Linked DNA regions of Homo sapiens. The protein of the gene in region 1 interacts with the protein of each later gene in a biochemical or structural test. Each region holds a gene or a part of one and is shown on either strand. Other genes may lie near its edges.

Evidence for each region. The genes of interacting proteins can lie anywhere in the genome.
Region 2: the proteins of ITSN1 (region 1) and SNAP23 form a complex in vitro, tested with the Homo sapiens proteins (one study listed by BioGRID).

The regions. Positions count from the first base shown.
Region 1 is NC_000021.9:33,883,501-33,887,000, forward strand, and holds part of ITSN1 (intersectin-1), read left to right. Parts: intron 1-49; coding exon 50-171; intron 172-1,540; coding exon 1,541-1,623; intron 1,624-1,938; coding exon 1,939-2,022; intron 2,023-2,786; coding exon 2,787-2,960; intron 2,961-3,500. UniProt on the Homo sapiens protein: Adapter protein that provides a link between the endocytic membrane traffic and the actin assembly machinery. Acts as a guanine nucleotide exchange factor (GEF) for CDC42, and thereby stimulates actin nucleation mediated by WASL and the ARP2/3 complex.
Region 2 is NC_000015.10:42,530,096-42,533,558, reverse strand, and holds the end of SNAP23 (synaptosomal-associated protein 23), read right to left. Parts: intron 2,147-3,463; coding exon 2,081-2,146; 3' UTR 501-2,080; downstream 1-500. UniProt on the Homo sapiens protein: Essential component of the high affinity receptor for the general membrane fusion machinery and an important regulator of transport vesicle docking and fusion.

The sequences.
Region 1 (3,500 bases):
CACACAGACCCCCAGCCTCGCTTTGTAATGCCTGTGTGTTACTTTCCAGCCTATTTTCCTAAATGAGGTTCTAGTAAAATTACCCACCGACCCTTCTGGAGACGAGCCCATCTTCCACATCTCCCACATTGACCGCGTCTATACTCTCCGAGCAGAAAGCATAAATGAAAGGTGAGACCTGCCGCCTCCCCAGCATGGGCCCCAGGGCTCCACGGCTCTAGGACACACAAGGGGCGGGTGATTAATCAGGTGCCAATGTTTCCCAAGTGGCAATGCCATCACCCCTAGCTGGGAGTGGGGATGGGGCTATTACTTTTTTCTACAGCCTCTCAAAAATCTGTCACATGGCATGCCCTTTCCAAAATAACATGGATTCAAACTAATTTTGCTTGAGTTTTTTTTTTTTTTTTTTTTTTTAAGGCAGAGTCTCACTCTGTCACCCAGGCTGGAGTGCAGTAGTGCAGTCACAGCTCACTGCAGCCTTAACCTCCTGGGCTCAGGTAATCCTCCCACCCTAGCCTCCCAGGTATGTGGGACTACAGGCATGTGCTACCAAGCCTGGCTAATTCTTTATATTTTTTTGTAGAGATGGGTTCTTGCCATGTTGCCCAGGCTGGTCTTAAACTCCTGGGCTCAAGGGATCCACCCGCCTTGGCCTCCCAGAATGCCAGAATTCTGGGATTACAGGGGTGAGCCACTGCACCTGGCATTGTTGTTGTTGTTGTTGTTGTTTTATTAAGAAATGTTTCGCATTCTTTGAGGTAAACAGAGCATCTCAGGTTTCCCCTGGCTTCCCAGGTGGCAGAAACCAATAGGAAAGTAATTTCGGGGTTAATAGGACCACGCAAACCCAAACCTCTCCTCACCTTGGCTGACTTAAATGGGCATTCTGGAACCTAGGGCTGTGGGTATTTTGCTTCAATCTGTCTTCAAGACACTGCCCTGGAGCCAAATGAAATAGATCATTTTCTGAAGGGTGAACTTGACACAAGGCCAGCATCATTCCAAAGAGCATTTGCACCAAGCAAGAAAATTGGCTAAAGCTTTTGTGCATATGGTTCTCAGAAAAAATGAAGGAGAAAACCGCGGCCACAAATGCCTTCCCCCAAGGCGTTTTGGTCTTTCGTGTGAAGTGGTTCCCAATCTGGGAAGTGGTTTTTGTTCTTTCTTTGCGTGATTTCATAAGCGAGATCCTTCTGGCTTTGTTGGATTAGGCAAATATGTGCTGCTCTTCGGTAAGGAAGGAAGAGGAGTCGTGTCCCGATGTTGCCTCCAAGACAGCATCTATCACAGATTTTCTTCCCCGGGGACATCATCGCAGGTCTTGAGGACATCCATGGAAATGGCCCTCATGCCTTTCTTATCGATGGCAGGAATAAGTATTAGCGTCACGTGACATAAAATCAGATTTTCTTTCCCGAGCCTTTGTTGTTAAAATCAAATGAACAAAGAAACAGAGTCCTGGCAACAGTGTTTGAACAGACCTGAAGCCTTTTTCCTGAGTTTCTGTTTGGCAACTTTCTGTCTTTTTCTGTCCAAGGACTGCCTGGGTGCAGAAAATCAAAGCTGCTTCTGAACTCTACATAGAGACTGAGAAAAAGAAGCGCGAGAAAGCGTACCTGGGTAATGCATGGCCCCGCGGGGTGTCCTGCACAGCTGGGCAGGAGGGAGGGCCATTTGGCTGGGCTGAAAATCCTCAGAATAGAAGAATCCCCTGGACCTAGAGGAGGGGCATGGAATGAGATGGAAGTGAGCTTGGGGTGGGATGCAGATGGGGATGGAGGGCAAATTCCAGGAGCAAGGAAGCAAGTGTTTAAGGAGAGGGAAGAATTACTTTTGAGTCGGGAGAGGTACATGAAATGCATTGTGAGGCTCACAGAGATGGGAAAGGTGTGGCACGTTCAAATGAAGCATTTTGTGTTTTTCCTGCCGTCATAGTCCGTTCCCAAAGGGCAACAGGCATTGGAAGGTTGATGGTGAACGTGGTTGAAGGCATCGAGTTGAAACCCTGTCGGTCACATGGTAAGGCTGTGAGGCGCCCCCGGCTCCTGCTTTGGGGTTGGGAGTAGGGTCCGGGTTCCCCACACCCCCACCTGGCTCTAGATCAAATGTGCTATTTCCATACTCCCTGATCTCCTTCCAGAATTGGTTTAACTAGCACTTGTTAAAAACCTGGAGGTTTTGTGTTTTTTTTTCCATCCTTTCTACCATTCTGCTTCTCCGAGGGATCTGAGTGGCTGCATTCACAGTGGATGTGACACAAGATCAGGCCAAAGTAACGAGACAGGAAGGGCCTAGTTTCAAAGCCCACTCAATTAAGTATTTGTTTTTAGTTTAAGGATGAAGCTGACTTCTGGGAGTTTCCACCCGGATTCTCCACCGAATGACACTTATTAAGCATAGCAGTTATTAAGAGTGGGGAGCGGCCGGGCATGGTGGCTCACACCTGTAATCCCAGTGCTTTGGGAGGCCAAAGCAGGTGGATCACCTGAGGTCAGGAGTTTGAGACCAGCCTGGCCAACATGGTGAAAGCCCGTCTTTACTAAAAATATAAAAAATTAGCCAGGCATGGGGGCAGCCACCTGTAATACCAGCTATTCATTCAGGAGACTGAGGCAGGAGAATCACTTGAGCTCAGGAGGTGGAGGTTGCAATGAGCTGAGATCATACCACTGCACTGCAGCCTGGGCGACAGAGCAAGAATCCATCTAAAAAAAAAAAAAAAAAAGAGTGGAGATCAAAATGAGGTGTGAGTTCCACCTGGCGAAGGCTTTTGTTCCCTCCAGGAAAGAGCAACCCGTACTGTGAGGTGACCATGGGTTCCCAGTGCCACATCACCAAGACGATCCAGGACACTCTGAACCCCAAGTGGAATTCCAACTGCCAGTTCTTCATCCGAGACCTGGAGCAGGAAGTCCTCTGCATCACTGTGTTCGAGAGGGACCAGTTCTCACCAGATGGTGAGTGGAACGCGGCCCTGTGGTTATTCCTCCTTCCCTGGCACTCGTTTGCGTGGGTTAATGTTTTCTTACCTGGGGACTTGGTGCCAGGATTCCTTCGGTTTCCCTCCTGAGAGATGAGGCTGGCTGGCACAAGACGAGGCTCTGTCTCCCCTGGAGGAGTCTTCTGGAGGCGTCTCATTGCATGTGGACAGAGCATGCTTGGTCTAGAATTGTGCCAGCTGCCCTGGGCAAACACGTCCATCTTCTGCTTTCCAAAGCAGGTGACTGTGGAGAGGGGTGTGTTTAAGAGCCTCAGCATAGTTCTTCAGTCCTTGGCAAAAAGCTGTGCTGGCAATGGATGAAACTGGCCAATGGAACAAGGATGTTAGCCCACAACAGGAGCCGCAGAATGGGCCAGGTCCCTTTGGGTGGCATTTTTGTACCACTTATTAAGTAGGCAAAGGGATGCAGTCATGTTGAATGAATCATTTCTTCAGCCAGCCTTCTGTTTCTGCTTGGGCCTGGAAAAGAATAGTCTCAGCCCAATGATTCCAAGAA
Region 2 (3,463 bases), on another chromosome or scaffold:
TAAATGGTTTTAGGAAAGGCATTTAGGTAAAGCACAATCCTCCGTTTTACACCTTACTTTACATATTTACCATCCCTGCCAAACCACTCATTTTGACATGGAGCATTTCTATTACAGAGGGTGTAGTTGCATCTCACTTTATTTAAATATTTTCCTCTTTAGCCTTTGAAAGCTCCCACATTAACTGTATCTTCTCCAGTGAGTTGTAGTTCTCACACAGAACCATTACCCTTCCAGTCACTAGTGTATTTAAGCTCAAGTGAGTAAGACTAGTAATGATTAAAATGAACCTCACAATAAATTTTTAGCAAGGTAAGTTTAAGTCCCATCAATATTTTCAATAAATACTGGAAAGATGCTAAAGGCAGCTTCCTGCTGTAGTGTTTCTTGATGTATGGATCTTTGCTTTATTAATTTGTTAAATGAGAGCTGATGAAACTATTTTCCCCCAAATAACAGTCATAGAAACATGTTACCTATTTGAAAGAACAATACCATTAGTTAGTTAAAAAATTTAATTGTAAGGATCAAGCAGTGGTTATTGGTGAAACCAATACACACTGACAGCTTTGAAGTGTTCAGATGCTAATTTTAAAATAAATGTGACAAATACCAATCAGATGTTCATAACACTTTTCAGGATCCACATCAACTTGATTATGGACATAGTTCAATACACAAGGGTAAGAGAAAGAGTGTGTAATCACCAATAATTAAACCAGAGGCATAATTTTTTCAAATAATTTTTAGTTACAGAATAAATTCTAACTTTTTAAAGTCTAAAGCTACATAAAACTCAAAGCAATCTATTTTTCTACCTGAGGTCAAAATGACTTTCCTTTTTCCTAACTAAACATAATTCTTAGCATTGAGGTAAATCTGAATTCATGTGGTATGCTTTGTCAAACTTTTCCAAAAAATTTTAAGCCCTGCTTTAGAGAGAAATTCTCATGTTACACATATATATTTACATATTTTTTCTTCAAAGACTAATGACAATGTATGATGTTAATAGGCCTGTAATGGAACCATGATACTACTAATAATATGAAATAAAAAGCCACTCATTTATATAAAGTGTTCCTGAATGGTGCAATAAGAAATGGGATCACAGATTTATGTACATATATGAATCACTAAGAGTTCAGAAATTAAGCTCACTTTAAGAAAACTCAGCCAGGCACAGTGGCTCACGCCTGTAATCCCAGTACTTTGGGAGGCCAAGGCGGGTGGATCACGACGTCAGGAGTCCAAGACCAGCTTGACATGGTGAAACCCTGTCTCTACTAAAAATACAAAAATTAGCCGAGCGTGGTGACACACGCCTGTAATCCCAGCTACTCAGGAGGCAAGGCAGGAGAATTGCTTGAACCAGGGAGGCGGAGGTTGCAGTGAGCCCAGATCGCGCTATTGCACTCCAGCCTGGACAAGAGAGCGAGACTCTGACTCCAAAAAAAAAAAAAAGAAAGAAAACTCATTCTATTTTTCTCTTTGGAGCAGAGGTTGCAAAACTGTGATGCCTAACAAAAACGTTGTGTATAAAAGCTCCAAAACCAAGCATTAGCCTAAATTGGCTATAACTGCAACTTAAATCAAAAACTATATCCAACTAGATCTTCGTTGTGGCTATGCAACTTTTTGCTTTGTGGCCTGAAGGTTTTTACTGAGGTAACAACCTCTTATCTCTTGTCCTTCCCTCAACCACAAAAGCAAAAATAAACAACAACAAAAAACACCTCTACAGCTTCCTTCTTCATGGCTGTCTTTGGCAATGCTTCCAAATCTTGAAAGCAAAAGAACCTGCTGAAGTATATGAGGAGGATGAAAACACTAAACATGACATATGAAAACCAATCTAAGCGTATGAATTGAGAAAGAAAATACTAGAAGGAAGGCAGAGCAGCAGTCGGCCCTCAACAGAAAACAAAAAAGAAGGAGGGCTGTAACTGCTCTGGCCCTTCTTCCATATTATCTCCCAATTAGAAGAGCGTGGAACCGAAAACTTAAACTCTGAAAAGGTAATAACTTTCAAGGAGGAGCTACGGAAGTGAATAAATGATAAAGAAGAACAGCAGTAGCTTTAGCTGTCAATGAGTTTCTTTGCTCTGGCATTGGCAATATCAATACGATCTCTGTTGGTGTCAGCCTGAAAAACAAGAAAGATATCAGCTTTACAAGGTAAGTAACTCTAATAAAAATTAAACTTTTTACACTTGGAGTAACTGACACACCAAGAAAATCCAAGAAACCACGTGAAGTTACATTACAAAACTCATGTTGGGCAAGAAGTAACAGAATATGAAATTCATTTGGAAAACCCCTGGTATATAAACATGACAAAGGTGTAACATATAAGACCTTGCCAATATTTCATAAATTCTATAACGCATTTTTTCATAGTTTAACATGCCTGAAACTGGGATGCATCCTGTAATCAATGGCATTTTTTGATGCAATGAAATATGAAAGAGTGCTCTTCTCTGTTAAAGATCTGGACCTTGTGTGAGTCCTCTGAACTGAATCATAGAATCTCATCTGGATTCAGACACCCTAAGTCTAACCTGGAGAGACTGAAATAACCTTTCCAAAGATCTTTGAAACGAATCTATTACCATCCTCACCAACATCTGAATTAAAATGACAGGTAAATATAGCCTAAACCCAGACTGCAGCATTTAAAGCATCTTGTGAACCACTGTTTCAATTAAATCCATCAAAAGTGATTTAACAGAGAGCCAAGCTTAAAAACTCACCCTAAAGTTCACTGAGATTTTAATGAGGTATGACTTTCTTTTTTTCCTTTCTTTTTGAGAAAGGGTCTCACTCTGTTGCCCAGGCTGGAATGCAATGGTGCAATCACAGCTCACTGCAGCCTTCAACTCCTACACTCAAGCAATCCTTCTGCCTCAGCCTCCCGAGTAACTGGGACAATAGGCACATGCCACCATGCCTGGTCAATTTTTAAATTTTTTTAGTAGAGTCGAGGTCTTGCTCTGGTCTCAAACTCCTGAGCTCAAGCAATCCTCCTGCCTCCGCCTCTCAAAGTGTTGAGATTACAGGTGTGAGCTACCACGGTTGGCCAAGGTATGACTTTACATGTGACACATCAAAACACTGAAAACAATTTCGCTTTCACTATATTTATATCATGTAAAGTTAAGGGGGAAAAAAAAGAATCACAACTTTCTTTCACTCACATGACTCTATTTCGTGTGTCCACTCCATAAGAACTATTCTGCAGAACAGATTTTCACCTACGGACTCTTTCATGAGATGAGGATTCAGGAACTTAATTTATTTTTAGTTAACAAAATAGGCTGATGTGGGAGGAACGCTTTAGCCTAGGAGGCAGGCTGCAGTGAGCTGTGATTGTACCACCACACTACCCTAGGCGACAGAGCAAGACCCCATTCTCAATTAAAAAATTAGTTAACAAAATAAAACTCATTTGGGAGAGAAAAAA